Linked DNA regions of Homo sapiens. The protein of the gene in region 6 purifies or fractionates together with the protein of the main gene of each other region. This does not show direct contact. Each region holds a gene or a part of one and is shown on either strand. Other genes may lie near its edges. The genes, in order: SRPRB, ASPH, DERL1, PCNX3, UBAC2, RNF185 and TAP2.

Region 1 (4,034 bases), on a different chromosome or scaffold from region 6:
CTTTTCAACTTGCATGTTATCATGATTATAATTTATTTGAACTAAGTTTTATCTTCATATTTTGCATGTTTTATTTACCCAAAATACATGAATCACAGAGTAGTTATACTGCAAATCATAAAATATTTAGAACTGGCAATAGAAAAAGAAAAAACATTTAATTGGAAATAAAAACCCAATTATGGCAAAATTTACCAGCTCTAGATTTGTCTCAATTGTCCAAGGAATTTTCTTATCTGTGACAAATTGTTCATCACCACCATCTTGTGGGCAAAGATGCAATAATGAAATTTCAGTCTAGACATCTTCAATAAAAGGCAAAGAATCTACTACTTCATTCCATCAAAACTAAAATGCTGCCAATTAAAGACATTATTTTAGGGACCGCTAAGAGAAAATACTGCCAATTAAACTATGACACCATCAACTATAAGATATATTCTAAATTCAGAGATATTAAAATGTGTCTTCAAATCAGTGAAATGTGGCATACTGATTTTCCTCTTCAGTTCTTATTAATGTTAGAGACCAAAAAAGAAGCATCTGAAACTGCAGCATAAGACTTTTTAGGGAAGAACTTAAGAGTCAGTAACACCAGAGCACACACTAAAAGAAATATGGAAATATTGTTCTGTACTTCTTGAAACATCAATTTTACGTAATTTGAGAATATATATGGGCCAGGTGCAGTGGCTCACGCCTGTAATTCCAGCACTTTGGGAGGCTGAGGCCAGCGGATCATGAGGTCAGGAGTTCGAGACAAGCCTGGCCAACATGGTGAAACCCCATCTCTACTAAAATTATGAAAAATTAGCAGGGTGTGGTGGTGCGTGCCTGTAATCCCAGCTACTCAGGAGGCTGAGGCAGGAGAATCACTTGAACCCAGGAGGTGGAGGTTGCAGTGAGCCGAGATCACACCACTGCACTCCAGCCAGGACAACAGAGTGAGACTCCATCTCAAAAAAAAAAAACAAAAAAACACTATATATATAAATGATGTTGGCATTTAAAAACTGCTAGGATTCATCCCAGCTTTAAAATTCTTTTTTCAGATTTTAATAGTCATATACATTATTAAATTCACCTTCAGAATAAATGCAAACATTTAGTAACAATGACAAGAAGGGTTAACATTTCCTAAACACTAAAAAACACTTTTTAAGCATTTTAATCCCATAAAATCCTCATCATCCAGGTGAAGGTGGACTTGCAACCCAGAACTGGCTGACCCCAAGGTCACCTCAAGGTCTACCACAGGATACCATGCTGCCTCCCAAACACCACCAGAGCAAATCACATGAGTGGCTTTGATATACAGATACAGACCTAGACAAGCCCACTTCACTTCTTTCCTTCTTACCTGGCTGAAGACTTAAACCGCTCTAAGAACTGAAGCCTCAAACTCTCATGGCCGGGAAGGTCAATCAAGGTCAGACTATTGCCCTGGGGATGGCAGCAATAACATTAACGTTTCAATACAGTTCCACGTTCACAATATAAACCTTTAGTATCATATATTGGCTACCAAACTGGTACCTAATTAACCAAACAAATGTTCACAAAGCATCTTCTACTCATAAAACACTAGTCAACGTTCTGGGGATGTAACAGTGGCCAAAGACACGGTTCCTGATCTGGCAAAATTTATGAGAAAGGTGAACATAATGTAAAATTACACATAAATATAAAATGAGAACACTGATAAATGTTTTGAGGGTACAGGAAAAACCTGTCTGGGGGAGTCAGGGAAGCATGATCTACCTGAGGCTTGGGAGATAAACCAGTGTGAGTATAGCAAAGTAGGAGTACTGTATGAGTATAAGCAAAAATGTGAAAACAGTAACAAGTACTCATAAACTAATAATGTAATATAAGAACTTACAATTTTTCATAGAGCATATTACTCTTACTGGGATCTCCAATCTTTATAACAAAGTACACTTTTATCATTTCCACCCTTAATCTAATTATTTAAATATTTATCTTCCAGACATATAATTTACTTGTTCCAACTCCGTCAGCATTTGTGTCAATTCCTGAGCCCCTACTGAGCAAATCTACGATGCACCCTAATAAGTTCTATTCACCATGCCAGGCTGCCATTCCTGAATATAAGGTCAAGGCCTGGAATGGTGAATAAAGTTTATATTCAGTGTAAACGTGGCTGTGCTCAACAATAAGACTCTTAGATGTGGCCTGGTACATGCAGCAGACCATCATTTCTTACATGTTCTACATTATCCACAGCCAACCATACCCACAGTTCAGAAGCAGGCAATCAGTATCCTGCACAGATTTAACACAATTCCAGCTGGGTTTATTATGACCTTACCTTTCACATAGCCTGTGCATTTCTTTATAGACAAATATGTTTTTTATTAGTCCCTCTCTTTTTTTTTTAAGTACTGTTAAGAGTCTGGAGATCCCAGGTTGGGACTTAACTGCTCCATTTCAAAAGCAGCACTATACCACACACCCTAAGCAATTTGGAAGATACATTACTAGGTATATTACTATCTAAAGAGATTAGATCGAAAACGTAAGGGGGTAGGAGAAAGAGTGAAGAGGGAAGGGAAAAATGCTCTATATATTCAGTAGAAATATTGATAGAATAGAAATATAGTAGAAATATAGAATAACAGAAGCCACATATGTAATTTTAAATATTCCAGTAACCATAATAAAAAAGTAAAAAGAAATTGGTAAAATTAATTTTAAGTTATTTAATCTAATATATCCAAAATATTATCTTTTAAAATGTAATAAAAAAAGAAATTATTAATGATACTTTACGTTCTTTTTTTCCATACTAAGTCTTCAAGATCTGGTGTGTACTTCACACTTACAGCATGCCTCAATTTGGACTAGTCCTAGTTTAGGTGCTCAACAGTCACATGTGGCCAGTGGCTACATATTAGAAGGTACAGATTTAAAGCATATCCTGGAGTATCCTAAGTTAAAAATCTAGTGCAGGTACTAGATGATCTTGCAAACCTGGAATTTCAAAATCTGAATCCTTGGGAGTTTAAAAAGGTCTGGGCCACAAAGAGTGTCATCATTGAAAAAAAAAACAAAGATATCGCTAAGATATTTAAAAACATGTCCCTTTATTTTTCTTTACAATCTTTAATTCTGGAGGCATGAGAAAGGGGAAAGAAGACAAAGAGAAGAAGAAAAGGTCTCAAACCACAATTCTAATTCATCCATCTATCCATCCACATCCTCCAACGAGCCCTCACTCCACTCACTCACCGAAACTTATTACATGGCTGGGTGCAGTGGCTCACGCCTGTAATCCCAGCAATTTGGGAAGCTGAGGTGGGCGGATCACTTGAGGTCAGGAGTTCAAGACCAGCCTGGCCAACATGGTGAAACCCCATCTCTACTAAAAATACAAAAATTAGCCAGGCATGGTGGTGGGCGCCTGTAATCCCAGCTACTCAGGAGGCTGAGGCAGGAGAATCGCTTCAACTCGGGAGGCAGAGGTTGCAGTGAGCCAAGATCATGCCACTGCACTCCAGCCTGGGCAACAGAGTGAGACTCCTGTCTCAAAAACAAACAAACAAACTTATGCATTACAATCGGTTTGGTAGTCACTGTCTACATTCTGAAGTTACAGAGGTATGTAAAATGTCTTTCCCATGATTCCTTATATTTTTTTTTTTTTTTTGAGACTTAGTCTCGCTCTATTGCCCAGGCTGGAGTGCAGTGGCGCAATCTTGGCTCACTGCCACCTCCACCTCCCGGGTTAAAATGATTCTCATGCCTCAGCCTCCCGAGTAGCTGGGTTACAGGCGCCCACCACCACACCCGGCTAATTTTTGTATTTTTAGTAGAGACAGGATTTCATCATGTTGGCCAGGCTGGTCTTGAACTCCTGACCTCAAGTGATCGGCCTACCTTGGTCTCCCAAAGTGCTGGGATTACAGGCGTGAGCCACCAAGCCAGGCCCCATGATTCCTTATATTTGAAATACACTCATATATACTCTGTAAGATATCCATTGCAGCACTGTTTGTAAAAGCAAAGGTTAT
Region 2 (4,034 bases), on a different chromosome or scaffold from region 6:
AAAAGTCTTCAGAAAATAAAAATATTTATTCTTTATATATGCATTAAATAAAATTAGCAAGGTCATAAGTGTGGTGACGGACAGATAGCTCTTCTGCTATCTGGGGTGTATGGGTTAAGTGTTCAACACATTTACCCTTCAGCTCCCTAAGGGTATAAAGCCTCTTCAGCTGTTTTTCTCTGTTCCCATCCATAGTTGCTGTACTTTCGCTCTAGAAAATGGTAGGACAGGTCGAGGAGATAGCACATTCTAGTGGGTTGTGAAGTGGATTAGAAATGAACGGCTTTCCTGGTCTGGCCTGTGTCACTCTAAGTTGTCCTCTCTCTTTAGTCCAGGGGGTGGTGGTTGTCAGCCTTGTGGGGATGAGTGGACTGAGAAGGAGAATGTGTGAGACATCCCACAGTGTACTTCTAGTGAAATATAAAAGTGTTAAGCAGACTTTTAATTGATAGTCCCATTTTTTAATTTTTTAAATAAAATTAATGATAAGCATAGATTCAGAGTACATATACGGGATATATACATACCATTTTGTAAAAGCAGTAAATATCAATCTAATTTTTTTTTTTCCAGAAACCGAGCATAGTTACCACGTGGAAGAGACAGGTGAGATTTTAATTTAATTCTGTTCTTAATTAGAGTGAGTCTTCCTTTAAAAGGGCATCATAAAATACATAATATCTATTATTAATGATATATTTAAATTAATATATGCAAGATATGCAATTAATAATTTTATTACGTCTTATATTTATGGTATTTCTTTGTGAATATACTTTTTTGTGTTTTGATGCCTAGTTCCTGAGGATAAATTTTCAGTAGGATTACTAGTTCAAAAGATACAATTGAATTGCATGTTTTGTACCTTTCAATTACAGAGTCAACGAAAGGTCTAAATCATGTTTTGTCACATGCCAGCGCCCTTAAAGGGCATGGCCACAGGAGGTGGGCGCATCATCTGTCAGCACTTTACTGTTTTGCGGTTTGAGTGTAAACCAGTTGATGACAGGCCCCCCTTACTCATCTTTGCATTTGGCATTTAACACACTTAATACCTATTTGTTTCAGGAGTGAACATGTTTGAATATCATTATGACTTGATTTTGCATTTCAATCATAACTAGAAATTGTGTCTTTCTGGTTTCGAATATTACATGTATTCCTTATTTGAGACGTAATTTCCTAATTATTCCATAATTTATAGTTTCACAAGACTGTAATCAGGATATGGAAGAGATGATGTCTGAGCAGGAAAATCCAGGTTTGTAAATGTTAAAATTATTGATATGTGTTTTCTGATTGAGGCAGTGGCCAAGGCCGTTTTATTCCAGGGTTAACAATTGTGATTCAACACAGAGATCCCTGTATGGTATTTATAATCACTTTTGATTGGTCAGATGTTTATAGAAATGTCTGAATATAGTTTAATACTACATAGAGGGATGAGAGAAAAAGGAGACGTATTTTTCAAACCACTGTTGAGACTTTGGTCTTTGTAGGTAAGGTGCTGGAAAGAATATTTGAAAATTGAAGGGGCAGTATGATGTACTATAAAGTCATTCTGGGTACAAATCCCATTTCTACTCTTTCCTATCTTTTTGACTTAGGCATCAAATTGTGGAACGTTATTCAGCTTAAATTTTATTAAATGATAATGAAAACATCTATCTGGCAAAGTTGTGAAGATAATTAATTTATGAATCTCCTAGAATGCTGTCTGGCAATGTGTTTGGTTTTTTCCTGTTTGGCAAAGGTGTGTTTTTGTTTTTTAGATTCCAGTGAACCAGTAGTAGAAGATGAAAGATTGCACCATGATACAGGTATTAGATGAGCATTTTCATTAGATTTAAAATATTACCTTAGATTTTTCAATCACATGCTGTGTTTACATGGTGATTTTTCTTTTAAAGGCATCAAAGAAGTAATTTCGACATCTAATGCATGAGATTTTGTTTTATAACAAAGTTAGACTGTTATAAGAATATCAGGCTTTCATATTTCACCTCATCAACTAACCATTCCATAACAAAACAGGATGTCAAATTTTAATGCTGTTTTTGTGTATCAAATTCCTCTGTGCCAATTTGAGAAATTTTAATGAAAATAATTTACCTGCCTTTTAATTGCTTTTGGGCAGAGGCATTTATTATTGACTGAGCAGACATTAATATTTGAAGGAGTAGAGTTCTGTGTTTACGATTAAGTAGTATTTTGTTTTAACTGAACAATTGTATAGAATGACTCAGTTAATACTTATTTTGCTTTTATTCTCTTTTTTTTTTCAGATGATGTAACATACCAAGTCTATGAGGAACAAGGTTTGCAAATGCTTTCTTTTTTTTTTTTTTCTTTTTTTTTTTGAGATGGAGTTTCGCTCTTGTTGCCCAGGCTGCAGTGCAGTGGCACAATCTTGGCCCACTACAACCTCCGCCTCCTGGGTACAAGCGATTCTCTTGCCTCAGCCTCCTGAGTAGCTGGGATTACAGGCATGTGCCACCACGCTTAGCTAATTTTGTATTTTTAGTATTTTAGGGTTTATCTCAAACTCCCGATCTCAGGTGATCCTCCCGCCTTGGCCTCCCAAAGTGCTAGGACTACAGGCATGAGCCACTGCGCCCGGCCTGCAAATGCTTTCTAACCTTAAGCCACCTTCTTGTTTTAAAATATACCTATAGTTTGACTACAAGATGTGGAACATTATGCTTTAAACTATAAACTTTGCAACTTAAAACATCCAGATGAACGGTAGCGTTCAAAGAATTCACTTGGGGAGACTGTTTACCCATTCCACGGCTTCTGCCATTGCCTAAATAATTTCTTAAACTCTTTACAAGTTGCCTTAGGAGGCAGTTACAGTCATTCAAGAAAACCAATCTCAGTACTTTATAGTTGTGTCTCTTTTGACTAAAATATGCATGAACAACTACTTTAGCCGGAGTTAAATTGCTCTAGCTGCTTCTACAGGTTAATCCCACTCTCAAAGATGACTGATTTGTCACCTTGGGGAAGGTTAAGAAGCACTGTGTTCCAGGCTTAAAGGCAGTATGGAGAAAACAGTTCTGGCAAATTTGTGGCATCAGCAGCATCTGATTCAGTTTAGGCCTGTACCTCCCTCCTCTTGTGTCCAAGCATTGCATAGACTATTGTGTTGAACTCCATGAAGTAGATTTTATTTTCCCTGCTTCCCAGAGGACAGAAATAAGGTTCTGACATTATAAATAAGCTGCCCAAGAATGTATGGCTAAGAAGTAATAGAACCAATAATATATCCTTTTTATTCCATTATCCTCAAAGATGATTATGTAGAAAGAGAGAAGTCAGTTGGGTATAACTTTATGTGTAAAGCAAGAACGATGAAGAAATACATCGTAATTGAGTTGGTGGATATGGAGGACTTTCTATGTTCTAGATGGTTTTAGGGCCTGGAATTCAATTATGAGTAACATAGGGTCCCTCCTTTCAAGGAGTTTACAGTGTCATGATAGATAGTGAATCACAATTGAAGAAAATTAGGAGTGTTTATAAATATGAATCATATTTATATGATGATTTAAGATTTGAGACCCTACCAAGTTCATCATCTATAGTGGCTATTTCTAATGGGATATGAATGACACCATGGGAAAAATCCTAGGTTGTGTCTTTAAGGTACTGATAATTTTTATGAAAAGTTAAAGAATTTGGACCTGATGTGTTCACAGGAAGATTTGGGGCCGAGGGAAGGTTGGGGAATAATTTGGTCTTGAGATTGCACTTAGATTTTCTTTCCAATCTTGAATTTGAAGGAGAAAATAGGAATTTATAAATACAAGTTGCATGTAATGATGGGATTTGAGATATTTTCCTCATTTCTACTGATCATTATAATGTTTTTAAAAATATAAAGAACATGTTTGGAATGCAATTTGAAGACTAAATCTAGAGGAATTTAAATTCAAACTCATAAGAAGTATAAAATTAGATACCATGCGAAAAGAATGTTATATGTTTTCATAGGGCAGAGTATCATAATAAATGTAATTTAAAATGTTAGC
Region 3 (3,351 bases), on a different chromosome or scaffold from region 6:
TCGTGGGAAAGGCTGGGCACCGTGGCTCAGGCCTGTAATCCCAGCACTTTGAGAGGCCGAGGCAGGTGACTTGCCTGAGCTCAGGAGTTTAAGACCAGCCTGGGCCACATGGTGAAACTCCATCTCGAACAAAAATACAAAAAATTAGCCGAGTGTGGTGGCACACACTTGTGGTCCCAGCTACTCAGGAGGCTGAGGTGGGAGGATCATCTGAACCTGGGAGGCAGAGGTTGCAGCGAGCCGAGATCATGCCACTACACTCCAACCTGGGTGACAGACTGAGATCCTGTCTCAAAAAAACAAAGAAAGAAGAGACAGAGAGGGAGAGAGGGAGAGAAAGAGGGAGGGACAGGGAGGGAAGGTGGGAGGGAGGGTTAAGAAAGAAGTAAACACAGGACATGGTATTCCTGGCCAATTCTGATCACCAGTCACTCTGGAAGGCAAACAAGTGAACTGCCAGTAAACCCATTTGCTCAGCCCAGCCTTCTAAGAAAAAAACAGTATAAAGTCCAGAAAGGAGTAACTTCTTTCAAAGGTTAGTTATTCAGAGTGTTAAGTTACTGCTGAAAGTGTAAGAGGGGCAGGGACCTCAGAAACAGAGTTGGCAATAAACGAAGATGTTGGCAACTGCAACATTGCCTATTATTAGATCCATGTCATTCAAAAGGTAGCTTAGAACACAATGATACTGGCAATGTGTCCTTCTAAATAAGCGGGATCTTTTTCTATTGCTTCAGTATTTCCCCAGTAATAGAAGAGGGACATACATACAACCTGCTTCCTGTCACCTCACCTTGTGATGAGTGAAGTTGGCCTGTCGAAGGCCCAAGATACAGACTGGGATGTTCACCCTCGAGGAAAAAAAAAAAAAAGGGCTCAGGAATGTCATGGCACCTGCTATCTAGTCTGTGTGTGCCTTATGAGGAAACAGGATTAAACTAATTTTATAAAGTTCCAGGGCTCAGATCCATGGGTAGAAGCTATAAAAATGCCATAAAGCATGCTACAATCAGATATGACTCCTCACTCAAAGTTAGCAAGCATCCTCCTTCATTAAAATGAAAACCCAGGAATTCTGCATCCAGGAATTAATCCAGCAAAAAATACTGGGTACTTCCTAAATGCTCTTCAAGAGATAATTGGTTACACAAATTATGTGATATCTAAGAGACAGCAGAGCAGGGACATGGAAACTTAACACAGACAACCTTCAAGTTGCACATTTTAATTTACAATTTTTACCAATAAAAAGGATTAGTTTACAAAAAGGGAAGTCCTTTATACAAAATAAGGATTTTTTTTTTCCATTTGTAAAGAGAATCCACTGTCATGTTTTGCCTTGTCAAGTCAAAACTCAAATAGCTTGTTTTGGTAAAATTATTCCAGAAACATAATCCAGACAAAATCAATAACGTCATCAGCTTCCTAACCATGTTTAAGAGGAATAACTTCATGAACATTTTGCCCTGAACTGAAGAGTTCTAAATACTTGTAAACCTTTAGGAAAAAATGACTGCTCGCAGGCAGCTGACTGGTAAGAGGGTACACCAGAGACTCCGGGTCACTCACTGTCAGAATATTCTTATACATACAATGAGTCTCCACGCCTGTACAATGAGTGTACGTGCAACATAATTGGAGTAATGGCCTCTAAAATTTTACAAGTAAACTTTATTGTGGCCACAGATGAACAACAAAACATGACAGTTAAGGTTCAGACTCTCCCCACCTATTTTATCATATAAATTAAATATGGAGAGGTACACACAAACTCTATTCAAAATGAGAAGTTGTTTGCCAACTCTCATTTCCTAGGATAACACACATCACACTGTTTAAGAGTGGGGGAAAGAATAGTCATACTGTTAGAGCACAATGTTTCCTGAAAAGAAACTGATCAAAACGTTTGAAGCCTTTTTAGTTGCCTCAAAGTGTGACAGCCACTCAATACTGCTCCTAACAGTCTGCTTTCAGATAACGTCATAAAATAAAATAACTGTGTGAAAAGCCATGGCCTTCAAAAAACTTTATTTGGTTATGAGCCAAGCTCTGATAGGAAAAGCCCACCTACGAAAAAAAGGTGTGGGTATTTAAGCTGGTCTGATTCACAGAGCTTGTACATTCATGACTCAAAATAACACACCCTCAAACCCAAATGATTCTAAAGCCATTTCAACCTTAAATCATGTTATTCCCTTAGATGTGCTTACATTAGCTTTAAAAAATGATCTACGTGCAGAGAGGAGCTGCGCCTTCCTCACAATTAATTGAAACATGACCAAAAAACGGGGGATAGGCAAAAAAGTGACATTTAAATAGCGTATGAGGGTCTCTCCTCCTTTACTCAATGAACACATATCCAGAATGAGATTGAAATGGAATCAATGCCCAGGAGCCTCTCAAAGAGAGCATCTCCCTGTAGCCAACATGATCTGGATCCTCCTAACACAAAGCAACCCAACTACTCCAGCTACACAAAGCCAGTAGGCCTACATATGAAACGCAAAGGGGTTGCATCCCCCATGGTTTAAACCTAACCCATGTTAGCTGCAACTCCACTACAGTCTTGATCACTTAGCTCAGGAAACAAACACCCAGCAACAACCCTCGTATCTCATTAATACCAATCTGTGGCCCTCACTGACTCAGTGGTACTTTTTTATAAAAATATCTGAAGAAGTGGCAAACGGTTACAACGGATGTCAGGTCGAAGCAATTCCAAAAGCTGAGAAAACGCTTCATCCGCTGCTTGTCTTCTCCCCCTATTGCTACAGTTCTGCCACCAAAGGGGGAAAATTACGTGAATATGATTGTTGTGACCAAGCCTTGGCAAAAGTCAATAAATAACAGAACCTGTCAAGGGCAGAGCAATTTTATGGGCAACCTCTTCTAGTTGCAAATGTGGGGGTTGGGAAAAGTGGGAGAGAGGCATGTGTGCAAGAAAGAGATAAGGGTCCTTTTGGGAAGGGTTTGGTGACCCAGCCCCAGCTCAATGCCAGCAGACTAGGACCCGCTAAAACCCATTATTCAGACGGAAAGGGGAGAAGAGAAGACACCAAAAAATGTAGTCAGTTTTGCAATTTGCACAGTTGGTATTTGTTCTTCACAGCAGTAAGGACTTGAATGAGAATCGTGAAACTTGTGGAACACTTATATTTTTCTTCGGGATTTAAGAAACTTTGTCTCGTACTGAAAGACTACATTCAGTGTGGGTCAGGTCCAACAGTGTTAGCCAGAACGCAGTTGTTAAGTGCACCCAGCACTGGGAGGAAATGTGGCTTGAGAGGAGCGGCTGCCCGAGGCCGCCCCTTCACTGGTCTCCAAGTCGAAAGCCCTGGCCCCAGTTGTGTC
Region 4 (4,034 bases), on a different chromosome or scaffold from region 6:
GCAGCGAACGTGTCAAGTGCTCATAGAAGATGGAGTTGAGGTTGTTGTCATCAGCGCCTAAGACCCAGAACAGACGGGCAAATGGACAAAGTGACAAGTTAGCGAGGCTCCCTCCCCAGGGAGGCCCTGCCCTAAAGCCCCTTGGATGGCTGGGTACACACCAGGGTTCCTGTCCAGCTGTGTGACCAGGCGGGTGTTGGAATGATCCACACGTTTAGTGCTGTTCAGAGAGAGTGCAACAAGGCGGTTGGCCAAGAAGGTGAAGAGAGGGTGCACCCTGCTCATGCTCTCCCTGTGCCACAAGGTCAACGCCATCCAGGACAGCCCCGTTATGCAGGCAGATGAGGAGACTGAGGCTCAGGTACATGAAGGGACTCACACAGGACACACAGCCAAGAAGCTGGGAGGCTAAGCTCATCCCCAGACCCCACTATCCCCAAGCTGTGAGCCTGAAGCCTTGGCCTGGTGCAGGCTCTCCCTGCATTGGATCTGCCGCCTCATGTGTCCCCACTGTGACCAAGCCCTCCCATACCTGCTGTGGGCCCCTCTGTGGGTGGCCTCCAGCCTGGGCTCCAAACCTCTCCCTTCCTGCCCTGCTGGGCATGCTCCCGCCTCCTGTGAGACTCACTTGTAGTCGCGCTCCCAGAACTTGAGGGGCCGAGCGTAGGACATGATGAAGACGGCACTGCCTAGCAGTGGGTTGAGAGGCGTGGAGAAGAGCCCCGAGAGCAGGGCCTGGACGAACAGCATGGCCGAGTCTGAGCCACAGTCAAGGAGGCGGCGGGCAACAGGACCTCCCAGCCCCCCACCACCCCCCACTGCCCCAGGCCACAGCCCTCCCTGCACACCCCCACCCAAACACAGGCTGGATACGTGGCACGGCAAACGGCTGGGCAAAAGCGTGGAAAGCCGAGCCCCAGGTGATCTGCCAGGGCGCGATGTAGGTCAGCACGAAACGCAGCTTGTACAGCAAGTCCCACAGCTGGCAGGGCCAACAGGGAGAAGAAAAAAGACATGCAGGGTCACTCATGGAAGCCCCCGGATGCCAGGCCCCATTCAGAGGCTTGGGTCATCGCACTGGCTTGGCCCACGGGGGCCAAACTCAAGGTCACTGCCAGCCCTTGTGCTCTGGACATGGCTCAAGGCGCCTGATGCCATTAGCAACCCCTGCCTGAGCTCAAAGGGGGCGGTGGCCATTTAGTTCACACAAGTACCCTGTGAGCTTCTTATTCCTATTGCTGGCCCCTTTTCACAGATGGGAAAGTTGAGGTTCAGTGAAGACAGAGAAGATAAATGACTTCCTCAGGTCACGCCACTAGGTCACTGGTGAGGCTGAAGCTAGACTATAGTACTGAAAATTGAGAACAGCCACAGGCCCTGCCCTCAGAGGGTACGCAGTGTGGATGACCGCCATCCTGGGCCAGGCCAGAAAACAAGAACAGAATGCCCACGTGAGGAAGAAAAAGGCTCAGGCCTGCCTGGGGTTCCAGGTACCACTGCTGGCCTCCAGTAGAGTGTAGGAGCATGGTTCCTTAGTTCAAAGAGCCCCCCAAGCCGTGGCAATGCCACAGCCGGCAGAGCACCTATACACACCCAGGCACTAGGGGCTTCTGAAACTCAGCTCGGACTGCTCTGGATCCAGGGTGGCAAAAGAGCGTGGAACTCAGAGGTCTGCGTCCAGAGGATAAGGCCAGGTCCTGATTACCCTAACCATTTCTGAGGAGGTGGTCGTGGGGTCAGACAGGCCTGGGTTCAAATCCTGGCTGACCACCAATTCTCTGGAAGCCTGAGGCAAGTCCCTCAACCTCCTTCAGCCTGCTTCCTCTCTGTAGAGGGTGGAAGTAACCCCTTCCTTGAGAGGCTGCTGCAAAGGCCCACGGGGCTGATACAGAGCGGTGGCCACAGGCCCTCAGGAAATTCTCTTCCCACCCAGGCAGAAGTTGGCTCTGCTCCCATTGGACAGCCTGGGGTCTGGGCCACAGCCACCAACTCACCTTGCTGCAAAGCAGGGACATGAGGAAGTAGTCAAGCAGAAAGCCCTGGGAGAGGCGCGGGTAGTCAAAGTGGAAGAGCAGGACGGTGAAGGCCAACGTCAGGTACTGCTGTGGGGGGCAGCAGAAGGCTGAGCGCAGCAGCTTCAGCCCAGCCACGGTCATCAGCAGCGCCCGGCAGCTGTGGGCAAGGGGCAGGCATCGGGTGCTTGGTAGGGGACCGGGGCAGTGGGTATAGGTGTCCCATCCCTCGCCTACTCTGGCCGGAGAGCAACCCCTGGCCTCTGCTCTGCTGGGCTGGTCCCTGCTCTTTTGGGCCCGTGACTCTTAGTCTCTGCTCTTCCAAAGGGAGTGGTGGGAACACATTTGCCTTTGAAGAAGCAACCACTTCCTGGGATGGCGTGTCAGGAGCTGGGGTCCTGCTTTAGCTTGCTAAACAACCTTAGACATGATTCATTCCCTCTCTAGGCCTCAGTTTCCCCACGGATCAAAAGGGAAAGCGGATGATGGGATCGTTGAGGGTGGGGTGGTCCTCACTAGAAGCAGTACTTGTCCGGGTGGCTGACGACTGTGTGGGCGTCCACCGTGAGGGCGTTGAGCACCACGGCGGGGTAGATGAGGTACTTCTCTACGCACTGCAGGCCAGCATACAGCTTCTCAAACCACATCACCTGGGCGGCACCTGTGTGGAGAGGCCAGGACTCTGCACCTGGCTTCCACATGCCTGCCTTCCCTGAGGAAGTCCTTCCCTAGGAGGGCAGGCTGTGCGGTCCTGACTCCTCGGAGACCCTGGGGGGAGGGGCTGATCTGTGGCAGCTCAAATGGGAGCAGCGAGCCCCAGCAGGGCAAGGGCTCCACATGGCACTTAGCACATCGAGGCTTGCTTTATGGCAGGTGCTCTGCTCTGCTGTCTGTTAAAACAAGGCCAATGATGAAATCGCAAACACCTACGTACAGCAGGCTGGCTAGGGCCTGAGTGCACAGTGAGCCCGTGAGCTGGGCCCTTCTAAAGGGCAGACCCCTCGGTTCAGGCTGGTTGTAGCCACAGAGGGATGCTAGTCTGGGAAGCAAAATCTTCTGTCGTTTAAGAAAAACTCAAGAAACATGGATCTTCATATCTCAAATCGAGATGCTAAAATAGAGGCTCCAGGATTTTTTAAAAACCATTATGCAGCCCAGTGAAGATGTGCTCCAGGCAGCTCTGGTCCACTGGTGATCAGTGTTTAATTCTGGACAAGAGATCCCTTCAGGGCCCTGGGGTTCTAATTCTTCCGTCTTCTCACAGACAGGAAGGAGGGCAGGACCAGGGCAACACAGGCAAGGGAAGGGCACAGCAGGGCACGAGGAGAAGAGTCGGTGGAGAGCGCAGCCGGGCAACACGGACACAGAGGGCAGGGAGGGAGCAGAAAGGGTAGTGTGGGCAGCGAGTGCCCCCTGCTGGCACTCCTGAGCCGAGAGGACCACAGCTCCCACCAGCCAGGCTGCAGCCCGAGCCACTGCCCAGGCCTGGCCATCAGGGGTGGGCACTCACCGCGCACTTCATACTGGCTGTACTCCAGCGGCTTCAGCACGGGCTGTGACAGGCAGAACCAGGGCAGCTGTTTGCGGAGTTGTGGCAGCAGGTAATGTGTGAAGAAGCCCACGGCCCCAGCCAGTGCGTACAACACGAAACCCAGCACCGACTGCAGGAGGGAGAGGCCAGAGACTCAGCTGATGGGAGCAGGCCAAGGGACCACAGAGGGCCACCTGGCACAGGCCGGGGAGGGGCTGCCCACGGCACTCAGATTGAGCAGGCTCCCGCCAAGACAGCGAGAGGCAGCAGCGGCCCATGCCACACAAACCTTCAGGGCAATAAAGACGGTGCTGGCGCTGATGGCGAAGGTGAGCACGGCGATCACCACACACATCACCAGGTCGGAGTGCAAGACCTCACGCTGCAGGGCCAGGAGAGACATTCAGCTGCCCGGCCAGGAGAGACACTCAGCTGCCCAGCAGCCCAAGCTGGACATGCCCCTCCCAGGAACCCCAGGACCTGTCACCACC
Region 5 (4,500 bases), on a different chromosome or scaffold from region 6:
TCTGAGCCTCAGCTCAATGTCACCTTCCCGGCTACCCTCCGTGACCATGCATGCTAAAGTGGTCCTCCACCATAACTTCGGTCTTTGCAGTTACCCTCTCATTGTCTTCATGTCACTTATCACTATGTGAATCATACTGACTTGTTAGCCTGTTTGATGCTGGTCTCCTTGATCCTGCTTATTACTTTATCCTCTGTATATCAACAGTGTGTGGCTGATATGGGTACCCAACAGACACTTATTGAATGGATGAGAGAGAAAGGCAAGTTTAACACTAAAATACTATTATCTACTAACCACAAAACGTGGGAAACATGCAGGTGGTAGAAAATGGCAGGGATTTATCCCTGGAAAGGGACTGTTATTCACCACCCATGGGGGTAGGGCTAGGTACACGTGTCGTCCTTCTTTCAGATTCTTGCTCAGGATCAGAATTTTGATTTGCTAAAGGGTCCCTCAACTTATCTAAAGGAAATCATAGGCAGTGGCTCACGCCTGTAATCCCAGCACTTTTGGAGGCCGAGGCGGGAGGACCACTTGAGGTCAGGAGCTCAAGACCAGCCTGGTCAACATGGCAAAACCCCGTCTCTACTAAAAATACAAAAATAGCCAGGTGTGATGGTGGGCACCTGTAATCCCAGCTACTTGGGAGGCTGAGGCGGGAGAATCGCTTGAACTCGGGAGGCGGAGGTTGCAGTGAGCGGAGATCCACCACTGCACTCCAGCCTGGGCAACAGTGAGACTCCATCTCAATAAATAAATAAATAAATAAATAAATAAATAAAATAAAACAAAGGAAATCACTTCTCCCTCAGTGGGTAGCTTCTCCAGAGAAAAATGTTAAAGCTGACACACAGCCTTTTCTAATGACCAGTCCTGGAAAACTGTGCCTAAGCTCCGTCAGCACTGTAAGCACTGAGACCAGGACCTGTTCGTTGCTGCATTCCCAGCACCTAGCCCAGTTCATCGCCCAGAGGAGATGCCCAAAATGTTTGTAAAATGAGCATGTAAGACACAGCCTTCTGAGGAACGGCCATCCCAACAACTCTTACACTGCAGAAGCACTTAATTTTAGAAACAGGCCAAGACAGCTGCAGAGGGGCTCCAGACCTACGCCTCTCCCTGGGCAACAGTTTGGTTCCTAGAATTCAACACTCACCACCATGTGCCATAGATAACAAAATATTATCTTCCCCACAGTTGCCCTGTATCAAATTTGAATACACTTGGCCAATATAATCTCATGGCTAATACAGTACAGCAACCAATAAGATTTCTCTTGCCCTTTATTTTTTTATATGTACTTTGGCCAGCAAGGATAGATCAAAATGCTAAAGAACAATTGAAATTGAAGAATTCCACCATTAATTTCATAACCAGTAGTTCCTGGCTCACTGTGTGATCCCAGGAAAACCACATTGCCTTCTTGAACTGTCAGCTTCAGCTACAGTCCTAATGCTCTTTATCTAAAGGGTAGTTTGGGGAAGATTACTTAGTAGTTGTAACATACTCCGGGACCAATCCATGAAAGATGCCATAAATCAAATTAATTATGAAACAAAGGAAATCATAAATATTGAAACCACTTCAAAACCTGAGAAGTTGAGAAGTGAGGAAGATTTAAAATTATGCCTGTGGCGCTGATACTAACTCACTGTCAGACTATAAGACGAGACACACATTCTCAGAAGATTCATGACATTCCCAACAGATCTTTTTTTTTTTTTTTTTTTTTTGAGATGGAGTCTCGCTTTGTCGCCCAGGCCAAAGTGCAGTGGCGCAATCTCGGCTCGCTGCAAGCTCCGCCTCCCGGGTTCACGCCATTCTCCTGCCTCAGCCTCCCGAGTAGCTGGGAATACAGGCACCCGCCACCACGCCCAGCTAATTTTTTGTGTTTTTAGTAGAGAGACGGGGTTTCACCGTGTTAGCCAGGATGGTCTCGATCTCCTGACCTCGTGATCCGCCCACCTCGGCCTCCCAAAGTGCTGGGATTACAGGCGTGAGCCACCGCGCCCGGCCAACAGATCTTTAATATTTGGAAATGTCAGATGTTTCTGTCCTCCAGCAGCATTAACTTCACATGGAGTATGAACAGTGACAAGCAATTGCAAAATTAGAGCTGTTCTCCGTTGCTGTACCCGTGCCTAACTGTTAACACGCAGTCTACCTTACCGAAAGTCAATTCCACACACTCAGTGAGAAAAGCCGTTTAACTGGCTGTAAAAATACTCCGCCCCCTACCTGCTGACCACCGCTAACACGCCAGGAAAACAGCAACATCCAGCAGCACAGCTGCGCTCCCTCGCCACGACTTCCTAACTTCCCTCCACTTGAAAGCACTCTCATCAGTGTGTGTTTGTCTAAAAACTCTTCTTGGAGACTGAAGAAGAAACACATCCAAGTGAAACTGAGAGGTCAGCTTCTAAAGCGGAGGCTGAACTTTGCAAGTGGGGGCGGGGGGAGTTAGTTCGGTCCCCCAAGCCTAAAAGAATGGGGCATGGTAAGGGGGACGGCCCCTTCCTTCAGCGCGGCACACGCTCCGCAAAGGGCCTGGGGCCGGCCCACGAGAACACCAGGGCACCTGCCCACTTGCAGCGGCCCCAAGAGACTCCTGGGCAGAGCACCTGGGGATACCAGGTGGGGTCGGGGCGGGCGGCGGGGCTTTGTCCCCATTCGCCCCTCCAGGCCGAAATGGGGGCGGTTTCCGCTGACCCCCAAGACCGGGAACTAGCAGGGTTCGGACGCGGGTCTGGAGGGTCGGCCCCACCACCTCCGGCAAACCCGAGGGTCCCCGCTGCCCCAGCCTCCTCAAAGAGGTGCCTAGGGTGGCGTGTAGGGGGCAGCCAGGATGGCGGAGGCCGGTACTCACAGAGCCCACTGGAGCCGGTGCTGGTGAACATGGTCCCGCCGGGCTCGGAGCCCCAGAGGGCGCCGGGGGAGGGGAAGCTGAAGTGCGAGCCCCAGCGACCGCGCAGGCGCACTCTTGGCGGAGCGACGAATCCGGCGCCGCGAGGCCACTCGCCGCTGACGAACGGCGCACCCGGCGCATGCGCAGTCAGGGGCGTGCGCCCGCTGGGTCAGCGCCCTCCTTCCTGCCGGGGAAGGGAAGTGCGTCGGTAGGGGAGGGCTCACCTCTCCAGGTTGAAACGATGGCGGTCAGAACCGCCTGAGGTAAAAACGGGTGGCACTGGGGAAGCGGAGGCGTAGCTCCCGAGAGCCTCACACTTGTGCTCAGTGCCGCCTCACCCCTGGTGGATCCGCGATGGCCGCGGATTCCCCTGGATTGCCGGCGCTGGGCAGGAGCGCCACTTCTAATCTCTCCCGAGACTGGACGCCCGGCGCCTTCCACGCGCGTTGTGTCTTTCCGGGCGGTCCCTCGAAGCTGGCTACCCCGCGGGCTGTTGACTGCAGTGGGATCTGGTCACTCAGATGCGGATAGAGGGGTACGGGAGCCGGAGAGGTGGAACAGGTCCTTCCGGGTGCGGAGAGCTGGGCCGTCCAGCCGCCTCTTTGTTCCCGCGTGGGTCCCGCGCGGAATCCCCACCACCGGGGCCGACTGTCGTGGTCCCTGGAGTCAGCACCCTGCCCTCCCCGCCGTGGTGGCGGGTGGCTGGGGGGTCCCCGGCCCGGCGAGCCCGGCGGAGCGACCCTGCGCTTCTGCCCTGGCGAGCTTCCGGACTCAGGCCATTTAAATTTTTTTCCCCAGCAGAATGAAGTTACTCTTTGCCAAAGTCACGGTTTTTAAATGTGTGAGCCTGAAAACATATCATGCAGTCGTTTTAAAAAGTTTTTTTTTAAGTTGATCTCGTGAAAGTAGGGAGTAAAAGAGTGGTTATTCTTGTACAGAGGAGAGTTAGTGGGGAGGAAGATGGGGAGAGGTTGGTCAACAGACACAAAGTTATAGTTAGAAGGAATAAGTTTTGGTATTCTCTTGCACGTTTGGATGACTATACTCAACGATAATGTTAACTTCAAAATAGCTAGAAGAGAGGATTTTGAATATTCTCACCACAAAGAAATGACAAGTGTTTTGGTGATGGATGTGCTAATTACCCTGATTAGATGGTTGCACAATGTGTATATGTATGGAACCATCACACTGTACCCCAGAAATACATGCAATTATGTGAGAACGCATGTTATGGGGAAAATTGACCACACTACCCAGCTAAATGAAAGGGATAGGCTATGGAGTACTAAAAAAAAAAAAGCATTTTCAGTGCTCATAAGTGCCAGCCAGTGTGCTAAATCTGTGATTCGTAGATCAACACAGTCCCTACCCTCAAAGAGAGGTTCCAGTGGGCCAAAATGTTAACACTGATTATAGAAGGCAAAAGTATGACTTTTATTTGCTTCTTTAGGCTTTATTCGTAAAGTTCATTTTCACAGTCTTGTTTTGTTCGTTTGTTTTGAGACGGAGTCTCGCTCTCCCCAGCTGGAGTGCAGTGGCGCGATCTCGGCTCACTGATACCTCTGCCTCCCCGGTTCAAGCGATTCTCC
Region 6 (4,034 bases):
TCTACTGTGTACCTACTATGTAGGCCAGGACAGTGGAAAATGCAGGCATGGCTTCTGTACCTCACATACCAAGTATCTTTAGCTGAGTACACTTTGAACTCAAAGGATAGTTCCTTTTCCAATTCCTGAACCACAGTTTAGCTTCACAAACCAAATACACAATCTTCCTGGCCATAACATCTGACTCCAACATTAATCTTGCAATGTCATTCTAAACTGAGTGGAGAATAACCCCAAATCATGGCAGATCTCCACTGGCAAGTTCCCTTAAAGACTCTAGGGGAGAAGTGGAGGTGAATGAATGACCCTCAGGGGAAAGTCAGGCTTTATAACAACGACCATTCCTCCCATTTATTAAGCAACGATAGTCATGTATCACTGAACGACAGGGATAATTCTGAGAAATGTGTCATTAGGCAATTTCATCATTGTGAGCATCACAGAGTGTACTTACACAAACCTAGCTGAAATAGCTTACTACACACCTAGGCTACATAGTATAGCCTATTGCTCCTAAGCTACAAACCTGAATAGCATGTGAGTATCATAGGTAACTGTAACAGAGTGGTAAATATTTGTGTATTTAAACATACCTAACATAGAGCCAAGGTGTGGTGGCTCATGCCTGTAATCCCAGCACTTTGGGAGCTGAGGTGGGCAGATTATTTGAGGTCAGGAGTTCGAGACCAGCCTGGCCAACATGGTGAAACCCCATCTCTATTAAAAATACAAAAACTAGCCATGTGTGGTGGCACATGCCTGTAATCCCAGCTACATAGGAGGCTGAAGCACGAGAATCACTTGAACCTGGGAGGTGGAGGTTGCAGTGAGCTGAGATCGTGCTACTCAATCTGGAGTGCTACTGCACTCCAGCATGGGTGACGCAGTGAGACTCCATCTCAAAAAAAACCAAAAACCAGGCTGGGCGTGGTGGCTCACGCCTGTAATCCCAGCACTTTGGAAGGCTGAGGCGGTTGGATCACCTGAGATCAGGAGTTCAAGACCAGCCTGGCCAACATGGTAAAACCCCGTCTCTACTAAAAATACAAAAATTAGTCAGGTGTGGTGGCACGTATGTGTAATCCCAGCTTCTCGGGAGGCTGAAGCAGGAGAATCGTTTGAACCTGGGAGGCAGAGGTTGCAGTGAGCCAAGATCACGCCACTGCACTCCAGCCTGGGCAACAGAGTGAGACTCCTCAAAAAAACAACAAACAAACAAACAAAAAATCCAACATACCTAACACAGAAAAGGTAACGCACTGCTCTATAACATTTTAAAATCACTAGATTATAGGAACTTTTCAGGTCCATCATCATCTTATGGAACCGCTGTTGGATATGTAATCCATTGTTGACCAAAATGTCATTATGTACTGCATGACTGTACTGTGTGCCACGCTGTGGCTGAATACCTTTTCATTTCTTAATGTCACTGGACGGTCACATTAACCTATGAGGCAGTACCATCATCTCCATCTTACAGATGAGGAAACCAAAGTACAGGGAAGCTAGCAGATTTGCTCAGGGATGCACCATCCAGACTGGAAGCATCTGTTTCATTTTAGAGTCTGTGTTCTTTCCAATGGCATTCTGCCTTTAAAAAAAAAATTGATAGCAGGCATGGTGGCTCACACCAGTAATCCCAGCACTATGGGAGGCCGAGGCGGGCAGATAACGAGGTCAGAAGATCGAGACCATCCTGGCCAACATGGTGAAAACCTCTCTCTACTAAAAATACAAAAATTAGCTGGGTGCACCTGTAATCCCAGCTACCCGGGAGGCTGAGGCAGGAGAATTGCTTGAACTTGGGAGGCAGAGATTGCAGTGAGCCGAGATTGTGCCACTGCACTCCAGCCTGGTGACAAAGCAAGACTTCGTCTCTAAAAAAAAAAAAAAAAATTTGACACAGGGCCAGGCATGGTGGCTCACGCCTGTAATCCTAGCACTTTGGGAGGTCGGGGTGGGCAGATCACTTGAGGTGAGGAGTTTGAAACCAGCTTGGCCAGCATGGCGAAGCCCCATCTCTACTAAAAATACAAAAAGAAAATTAGCCGGGCGTGGTGGTGCATTCCTGCAGTCCCAGCTACTTGGGAGGCTGAGACAGGAGAACCACTTGAGCCCAGGAGGCAGAGGTTGCAAGTGAGCCAAGACTGCACCACTGTACTCCAGCCTGGGCAAGAGAGCAAGGCTGTCTCCACAAAAAAAAAAAAAAAAAAAAAAAAAAAGATATACAACAGCTGTACATTTAAATATATGTATAGTTAATATATACATAAAATACATAATTTATAATCTTAAAATTTATAATTATAAAATTTAATAAATACATACACAAACACAAACACACACACACACACACACACACACACATTTTTTTTTTGAGACAGAGTCTTGCTCCATCACCCAGGCTGGAGTGCAGTGGCGCGATCTCAGCTCGCTGCAAGCTCTGCCTCCCGGGTTCACGCCATTCTCCTGCCTCAGCCTCCCCAGCAGCTGGGACTACAGGTGCACTCCACCACACCCGGCTAATTTTTTTTTTTTTTTTTTTTTAGTAGAAACGGGTTTCACCGTGTTAGCCAGGATGGTCTCGATCTCCTGACCTTGTGATCCGCCCACCTTGGCCTCCCAAAGTGCTGGGATTACAGGCGTGAGCCACCGCGCCCAGCCCAGAATATATATATATTTTTAAGAGACAGGGTCTCTCTCTGTCGCCTAGACTGGAGTGCAGTGATACAATCATAGCTCACTGTAGCCTCGAATTCCTGGGCTCAAGCCTTCCTCCCACCTCAGTCTCCCGAGTAGCTAGGACTACAGGTACCGCCACCATGCCTGACTAGTTTTAAACATAGTGGGGCCTCACTATGTTGCCCAGACTCATCTTGCACTCCTGGGCTCAAGTGATCCTCCCACCATGGCCTCTCAAAGTGTTTGGATTACAGGTGTGAGCCACTGAGCCCAGCCATAATAGCTGTACACATTTTTTATGTTATATGTGATAATTTGATACATTCACATAATCAAATCAGGGGTATCCTGTCTTTGAATTCTTAATTTTGTCAATCATTTCAAGTCCTGGTTTTACGATACCCTGAAGTATCCTGAATTTCTAGGAGAATGTGGATCACAACAGCTTTTACACAAGATGGTAATTAGGGCAAGAGCCTCAAGAACAAAAATCTCTGCTCCATTCTATTTATTCACCAATAAATTGATGTTTTACGCTGTTGCCAACTTAAAATCCCTTAAATATTGTTTAAACGGCCTTTTCTTCACACGATTTCTCTGCTCAAAAATATTCATTACCTCTATGTCCCTTTAGTCGAATCTGGGTTTGATAATCTGGCTCAACACTACTGTAACCATTATTTTTCCTAACACTCCCAGACCCTCATCCAGAGTGCTGTGAGAGGTATACAGTAGCCTCAAGGGTCTCAGATGAGTCCAACAGTGCATGTGCCTGTCCCTAGAAACTCCCTGCCTTGGAGTGACACACACACCCTTCGCCTTTACCTAGCATTTTTTGATCGACCTTTCAAGGTTCAGCTCAAAATCTCAAGACAAAAAAAAACACACACACACACACAAAAAACCAAAATCCGACCTTCACCTAGCACCTAGGTTCTCAGAGCCAGAAAGGGCTCCTGTAACCGTCAAGGCTGGAACAGACACCGACCTTGACACTTCATTTTGATGAGTGTATCTATCTATATATAAACATAAAATATAGTAACAATTATAGTCATAGCTAACACATAGTATTTACTGCAAGCTATGTGCTCTTCTAAGCCTTTTACATATTTTGAGTCATTTAATGCTTGCAAACGACCCTGTAAAATGAGGCAGAATGTGTGTAAGTACCTTGTCCAAGGTCAAACAGGAAGGTGGCAGAGTCAAGCTTCAAAAGGAGGAAGCCCAGTTCCACAGTCCTTGCTTATAACCATTATGCTATACTGCCTCTAGGCTCAGCACAGCAAGTAGCAGGTAGTAAGTGCTCACTAAATGGTAAGTATTATTACTTTAGAGATGGGGAGAAC
Region 7 (4,763 bases), on a different chromosome or scaffold from region 6:
AGGAGTGCAGAGAAGCGCAAAGTCAGGGGAAAGCATGCCAGGAGGGGCAAAAGAGAAAGAAATGAGAGACAGACACACAGAGAGAGAAGAGGTAAGGAATACACAGAGGAAGAAGAAAGAGGAGACATGGTGAGCTAGATGTGAGAACAAAATCATAACATGTACAAATTTACAAGTATTTATGGAGTGCACTCTGTACTAGACACAATAGAAAACTACAATAGAAGGGAAAAGATATTGTGAAAACAAGTATCCCAGTGCTTGCTTCTGTCCCAGCGTCCCTCAGGCTTGTCCCTCTGTGCGTCTCCTCCGCCTTGGTCTCCTTCCTGCCCCATACCCAAAGCCCTTCTCTGTCATCATAGATACTTCATCATGGGAACTGCAATAATAAATTCCCTGCCCCCACAATTCTCTGGAGCCCCAGAGTCATGTGATTCCCATCTTTCATCCTTCGAGTTGGAAAATCCCTCTTAGACCAACTACATGCTACAGTAACACTTAGAGGAAAAAATATAAAGCATAAAAGCATGTATTTTACAAAATATATGTTTCTAATACAAATTTAGTTACCATATTGAAGAGGCGTTTGGGAGAGTCAGACATGATATAATGAGGGTTTGTACTTTAATGACAGGGATGTGTTCTGAGAAATGTGTCGTTAGATGGTTTCATCGTTGTATGAACATCATAGAGTGTACTTACACAAACCTAGATGTCATAGCCTACTGCACACCTAGGCCATGTAGTTTAGCCTATTGCTCCTAGGCTACAAATCTGTACAACATATAACTGCACCTAACACTGTGGGCGACTGTAACACAGAAGTAAGTATTTGTGTATCTAAACATAGAAAAGGTACAGTAAAAATATGGTATTATAATCTTGTGGGTCCACCATCTTATATGTGGCCCATCATTGACCTAAACTTCGTTATGCAGTGCACGACTGTAGTTTCAGCAGAAAGCAGCCAGGATGGAATGAAGGCACAATGAAATGGTTTTCGAGGGTACTCTAAATTAAGTATGACCATAAAAATAGAGACAATCAGGCCGGCTGGGATTTGGGTAAGGTGAGTGCACACCTCCTTAAACTTTGCACCCCAGGTGCCTCGCTCACCTCATCCCAGTCCCAGCCTTATCAAACAGTTTGTTTGTTTGAGTATGTCTAGAAAGAGAAAGGAAAGCAAGTGAAGGGAAAAGAGTAATGATTCTGGAAAGAAAGGTGATAAGCCTCAGAGTAAGATCTTCAGGGACTGGCAAGATGAGCTGGGAAAGAAGAGTGAAAGGGAGAAGCATACCCATCCTGAGGGAGTGACCCTGGAGAGATACTTTGGAGACAGACTTAGGGGTAGGAGGTAGGAGGCAGAAAGAAATGGAATTTCATGGACCTAGGAATGTTGAGAGACAACTGAGAGACATTCCATCTGAGACTTAAATTCCTTTTGTACTACCTTCACTCATAACTTGTTCCTATAATAAGATCAGATAAACTTTGAAGATATTGGATGAATATGAACGAAGGAAGAAATGAATGGATAGATGAAACAGAATGGTGACTACATTCACCATATTTTAGTTTAAGTATTTTTGTGTTTTGCGCCTGAAAGGGCCTAGAAATGGAGTTAGGGAAGTGAAGACCCCTATAAAGATTTGGGGCTAGCAAATGGACCCAGCTGCCCACCACCTACCTGCCAAAGGAGAAGAGGCACATGAAGAAGATGGCACTGGCAAAGGCATGGGGGTCAAAATCACCTCCCAGGATGTCAATCACACGACCAGAATAGTGAGGGATTAATGTCTCACCTGAAAGAGGCATGAAAAATAACACAAGAATGTGCTGGTGCCCAGGCCCTTTTACCACCTCCAACTCACAACGTCCTCTCCTGACTCACCCAAAACAGCAAGGACAAGGAAGAAGAAGGCGGCAACGAGGAGAGGCAGGTCCGGCCTGGAGAGCTTCAGCAGCCTCCACATCAAGACTTTGTTGTTCACCTGGTCCTGCTCCTTCTCCTGGGCTCCAGGAGGGCTCAGAACAGCCCACAGTGACCAGCTGAGCCCCGCAGCCCCGTACCCCACCAGCAGCCAGCTCCAAGGGGCTGAAGCGACTCTGGCTGGGGGAGCACGTGAGGCCCCCGCGACCAGGGCTCTCAGGGAGACAGTCAGGGGGGTGGCCAGACAGAGCGGGAGCAGCAGTGTCCCCACAAATCCCAGCAGCCCTCTTAGCTTTAGCAGCCCCCACAGCCCTCCCAGCCGCAGGGTCCCCTCCAGCCATAGTCCTGGCAGCCCTTGAGGAAGCAAAGTCCCCAGAGGGCCCTGAAGCAGCCACAGTAAAGCCGCGTCCACCAGCAGCAGGGAGGTCCAGGGTCTCAGGTCAGGGAGCCGCATGGCTCTGTCAACGGATACGAGATGAGAAATCATGGGGGTGGAGTCCCAATCCTTGTCCCTGCCCTCCTACCCGCCCGGCTCCGCCTAACCCGTCCATCGGCTTCTCATTTTATCCTATTCAACCCTGAGAGCTCTCCTGAGTAACCGGTGCTCATCCGTACACCCCTCCTACGACAGACAGCTTTCGGCCTTCTGGGGAGCTGGAAGCATGACCATCAGGAGCCTCGTGCTTAAAAAAAAAAAAAAAAAATCCCCGGACCCCCACCCCCACCCCCGCCTGCCGCGGCGAGCTAAGTGGTCCGGGCTCCGCTCCCTCCTATCGCCGGGTGCAGAGGGACTGGGAAGCAGGAGCGTGGAGTGGGTAGTCACTTGGGCTGCGTCCCTGTTGGCGCTCCAGGTTCCCCTCCGCACCAACTCACCAGCCGCGGCGGGGAGACCGCAGCTCCGGGGACTTCTGCTTCAGCGCTGAGGTCCGCTCCGTCTCTCCCAACCTCGCTACCGGCTCTGGTCCGCCAGCTACGCTCGGCCAGGGCGGGCGTCAGGGCTCGGGCAGCTTTCGCTTTCGCTTCCCCAGCCAAGGCCTTCATTCTGGGCTGGGCCGCCGGGAGGGGGCGCGCGAGACCCGCAGACAGCGGAACTGGAGCCCGAACTCTGGTTCGCACTGTACAGGCCTGCAATGAGTCTCACTCGCCTTTAGTGGCGGTTACTCTGGGATATAAAACTGCAAAAATGTTTCTTTATCATTAAGTAAAATACAGTTGTCTCAAGGGCAACTTTATCTGTTGTCCTTGCTTTGTAATTGGAGAATGCTTTGTAATTGGAGAATCACTGAATTTTCTCAAAGTTACTACTTCAAGCTCTGAGCCTACTATTAAGAAGTGCCTTCTTTCTGGTCCGGCGCGGTGGCTCACGCCTGTAATCACAGCACTTTGGGAGGCCGAGGCGGGCGGATCGCCTGAGGTCAGGGGTTCGAGACCAGCCTGGCCAACATGGTGAAACCCTGTCTCTACTAAAAATACAAAAATTAGCCAGGGCGTGGTGGCGGACGCCTGTAATCCCAGCTACTCGGGAGGCTGAGGCAGGGGAATCGCTTGAACTCAGGAGGCAGAGGTTTCAGTGAGCCGAGATCGGGTCATTGCACTCCAGCCTGGGCGACAAGAGTGAGACTTCGTCTAAAAAAAAAAAAAGTGCCCTCTTCCATGCAAGCTCCAGTTTTAGGCGAGCGAGCCGGGCTCTCCTAAATAGAAGGTTCCAACCAATCTCACCAGGCCAAAGGGGATTTTCACGTACAGACTTTGAATTTAGTAGGCCCTGAGCGTTCATCTTCATCCGTCCTTCTCAGCCGGAGCACCTTGAGCTGGCGCGTGTTCAGGTGCCTCTGAGTCTGTACTCCAAATTATGTTGGGCGCACCTTCAGCCTATGAGGGAAATGCCCCGTACTGAGCTTTGGTTCTTGTTCTATTTTAACACTGTTTAGAACAGTAATTAGGTTTTTAAATATCCTTCCTGACCCAGAGCCTTCCTATGCAACAGAAAGATTCGTTTATTCCAGAAAGGACTCTTCAGATTGAAACCACCTCCCAAACTAAAAACAAACAAACAAACAAATTCCCCAAAGGAAGGGTCGCTTGGATTCCAGATCACCATTTTGAAATGTTACCTGTGTGACTACCAAGGAGTCACTTAAAGTTTAAAATAGTGGTGGTGGGGAGGAGGGATTTTAAGTAGGGGCTCGCTAAAGTTTTACAACTCTATTCATTCTGGCATTTTAAGAATCTCTCTCTAATGAAAAAAGCTCCATGCTCAAGCTCATGCTCCTACTTTCAAGCATTTGTTTCCTTTATTTTCTGGAAAGTGACATGGTCCATAGTTCCAGCATGATTCCGAAAATCTCATGATGTGTGTCTCTTTCTTCTAACCTGGATCTTTTACATTTTCCCCACACTCCTCACTTAGGGGAGTCCTCCTGATCTCTTCTTCCTCTAAAATTATAGTCCTGCCATCTTGCAATTCAGCATGACACATCATGAAATTAGACCCTTAATGTCTGTCTTTATATTCAATATCCAATATCTCCAAAGTGTTATTTGGGATAAATGGTATGGTGTTTATATGATTACCATATTAAAGTGAAGTGGAAGCTTTTTCATCCTACTCTATAAAGTCAAAAACAGTTATCCTAGGTGCCCTACTCCCTGTTCCTCAAACCATTAACAATGGAACACACAGGAGTCCCCAGGTGCCTCTCTATGGAAAGGACCCTAACCTATGTGAAATTGCAAACAAGTGTCCATGGACAGCAATGAGCAGCCTTCCTGAGGTCTTGGAGAGATGAGTGTGGAAGGAAACCCCAGGAAGAACTATGTGGTGAGGCCACAT

Evidence for each region.
Region 1: the proteins of RNF185 (region 6) and SRPRB purify together in Homo sapiens (affinity purification with mass spectrometry; 3 studies listed by BioGRID and IntAct, with this or other methods). This does not show direct contact.
Region 2: the proteins of RNF185 (region 6) and ASPH purify together in Homo sapiens (affinity purification with mass spectrometry; 2 studies listed by BioGRID and IntAct, with this or other methods). This does not show direct contact.
Region 3: the proteins of RNF185 (region 6) and DERL1 purify together in Homo sapiens (affinity purification with western blotting; 2 studies listed by BioGRID, with this or other methods). This does not show direct contact.
Region 4: the proteins of RNF185 (region 6) and PCNX3 purify together in Homo sapiens (affinity purification with mass spectrometry; 2 studies listed by BioGRID and IntAct, with this or other methods). This does not show direct contact.
Region 5: the proteins of RNF185 (region 6) and UBAC2 purify together in Homo sapiens (affinity purification with mass spectrometry; 2 studies listed by BioGRID and IntAct, with this or other methods). This does not show direct contact.
Region 7: the proteins of RNF185 (region 6) and TAP2 purify together in Homo sapiens (affinity purification with western blotting; 2 studies listed by BioGRID and IntAct, with this or other methods). This does not show direct contact.

What each region holds. Positions count from the first base shown.
Region 1 is NC_000003.12:133,808,526-133,812,559, reverse strand, and holds part of SRPRB (signal recognition particle receptor subunit beta), read right to left. Parts: intron 1,444-4,034; coding exon 1,361-1,443; intron 1-1,360. UniProt on the Homo sapiens protein: Component of the signal recognition particle (SRP) complex receptor (SR). Ensures, in conjunction with the SRP complex, the correct targeting of the nascent secretory proteins to the endoplasmic reticulum membrane system.
Region 2 is NC_000008.11:61,641,172-61,645,205, reverse strand, and holds part of ASPH (aspartyl/asparaginyl beta-hydroxylase), read left to right. Parts: intron 1-573; coding exon 574-606; intron 607-1,204; coding exon 1,205-1,261; intron 1,262-1,772; coding exon 1,773-1,820; intron 1,821-2,285; coding exon 2,286-2,318; intron 2,319-4,034.
Region 3 is NC_000008.11:123,012,137-123,015,487, forward strand, and holds the end of DERL1 (derlin-1), read right to left. Parts: coding exon 3,311-3,351; 3' UTR 1,034-3,310; downstream 1-1,033. UniProt on the Homo sapiens protein: Functional component of endoplasmic reticulum-associated degradation (ERAD) for misfolded lumenal proteins. Forms homotetramers which encircle a large channel traversing the endoplasmic reticulum (ER) membrane.
Region 4 is NC_000011.10:65,625,543-65,629,576, reverse strand, and holds part of PCNX3 (pecanex-like protein 3), read right to left. Parts: intron 3,951-4,034; coding exon of another isoform or gene 3,926-3,950; coding exon 3,833-3,925; intron 3,674-3,832; coding exon 3,523-3,673; intron 2,903-3,522; coding exon of another isoform or gene 2,877-2,902; exon of another isoform or gene 2,680-2,876; intron 2,674-2,679; coding exon 2,529-2,673; intron 2,173-2,528; coding exon 1,995-2,172; intron 983-1,994; coding exon 874-982; intron 759-873; coding exon 629-758; intron 221-628; coding exon 162-220; intron 58-161; coding exon 1-57.
Region 5 is NC_000013.11:99,199,309-99,203,808, reverse strand, and holds the start of UBAC2 (ubiquitin-associated domain-containing protein 2 isoform 1 precursor), read right to left. Parts: upstream 2,956-4,500; 5' UTR 2,901-2,955; coding exon 2,870-2,900; exon of another isoform or gene 2,398-2,869; coding exon of another isoform or gene 2,242-2,397; intron 1-2,241. UniProt on the Homo sapiens protein: Restricts trafficking of FAF2 from the endoplasmic reticulum to lipid droplets.
Region 6 is NC_000022.11:31,187,472-31,191,505, reverse strand, and holds part of RNF185 (E3 ubiquitin-protein ligase RNF185), read right to left. Parts: intron 1-4,034. UniProt on the Homo sapiens protein: E3 ubiquitin-protein ligase that regulates selective mitochondrial autophagy by mediating 'Lys-63'-linked polyubiquitination of BNIP1.
Region 7 is NC_000006.12:32,835,850-32,840,612, forward strand, and holds the start of TAP2 (antigen peptide transporter 2), read right to left. Parts: upstream 2,891-4,763; 5' UTR 2,804-2,890; intron 2,389-2,803; 5' UTR 2,385-2,388; coding exon 1,892-2,384; intron 1,803-1,891; coding exon 1,688-1,802; intron 1-1,687. UniProt on the Homo sapiens protein: ABC transporter associated with antigen processing. In complex with TAP1 mediates unidirectional translocation of peptide antigens from cytosol to endoplasmic reticulum (ER) for loading onto MHC class I (MHCI) molecules.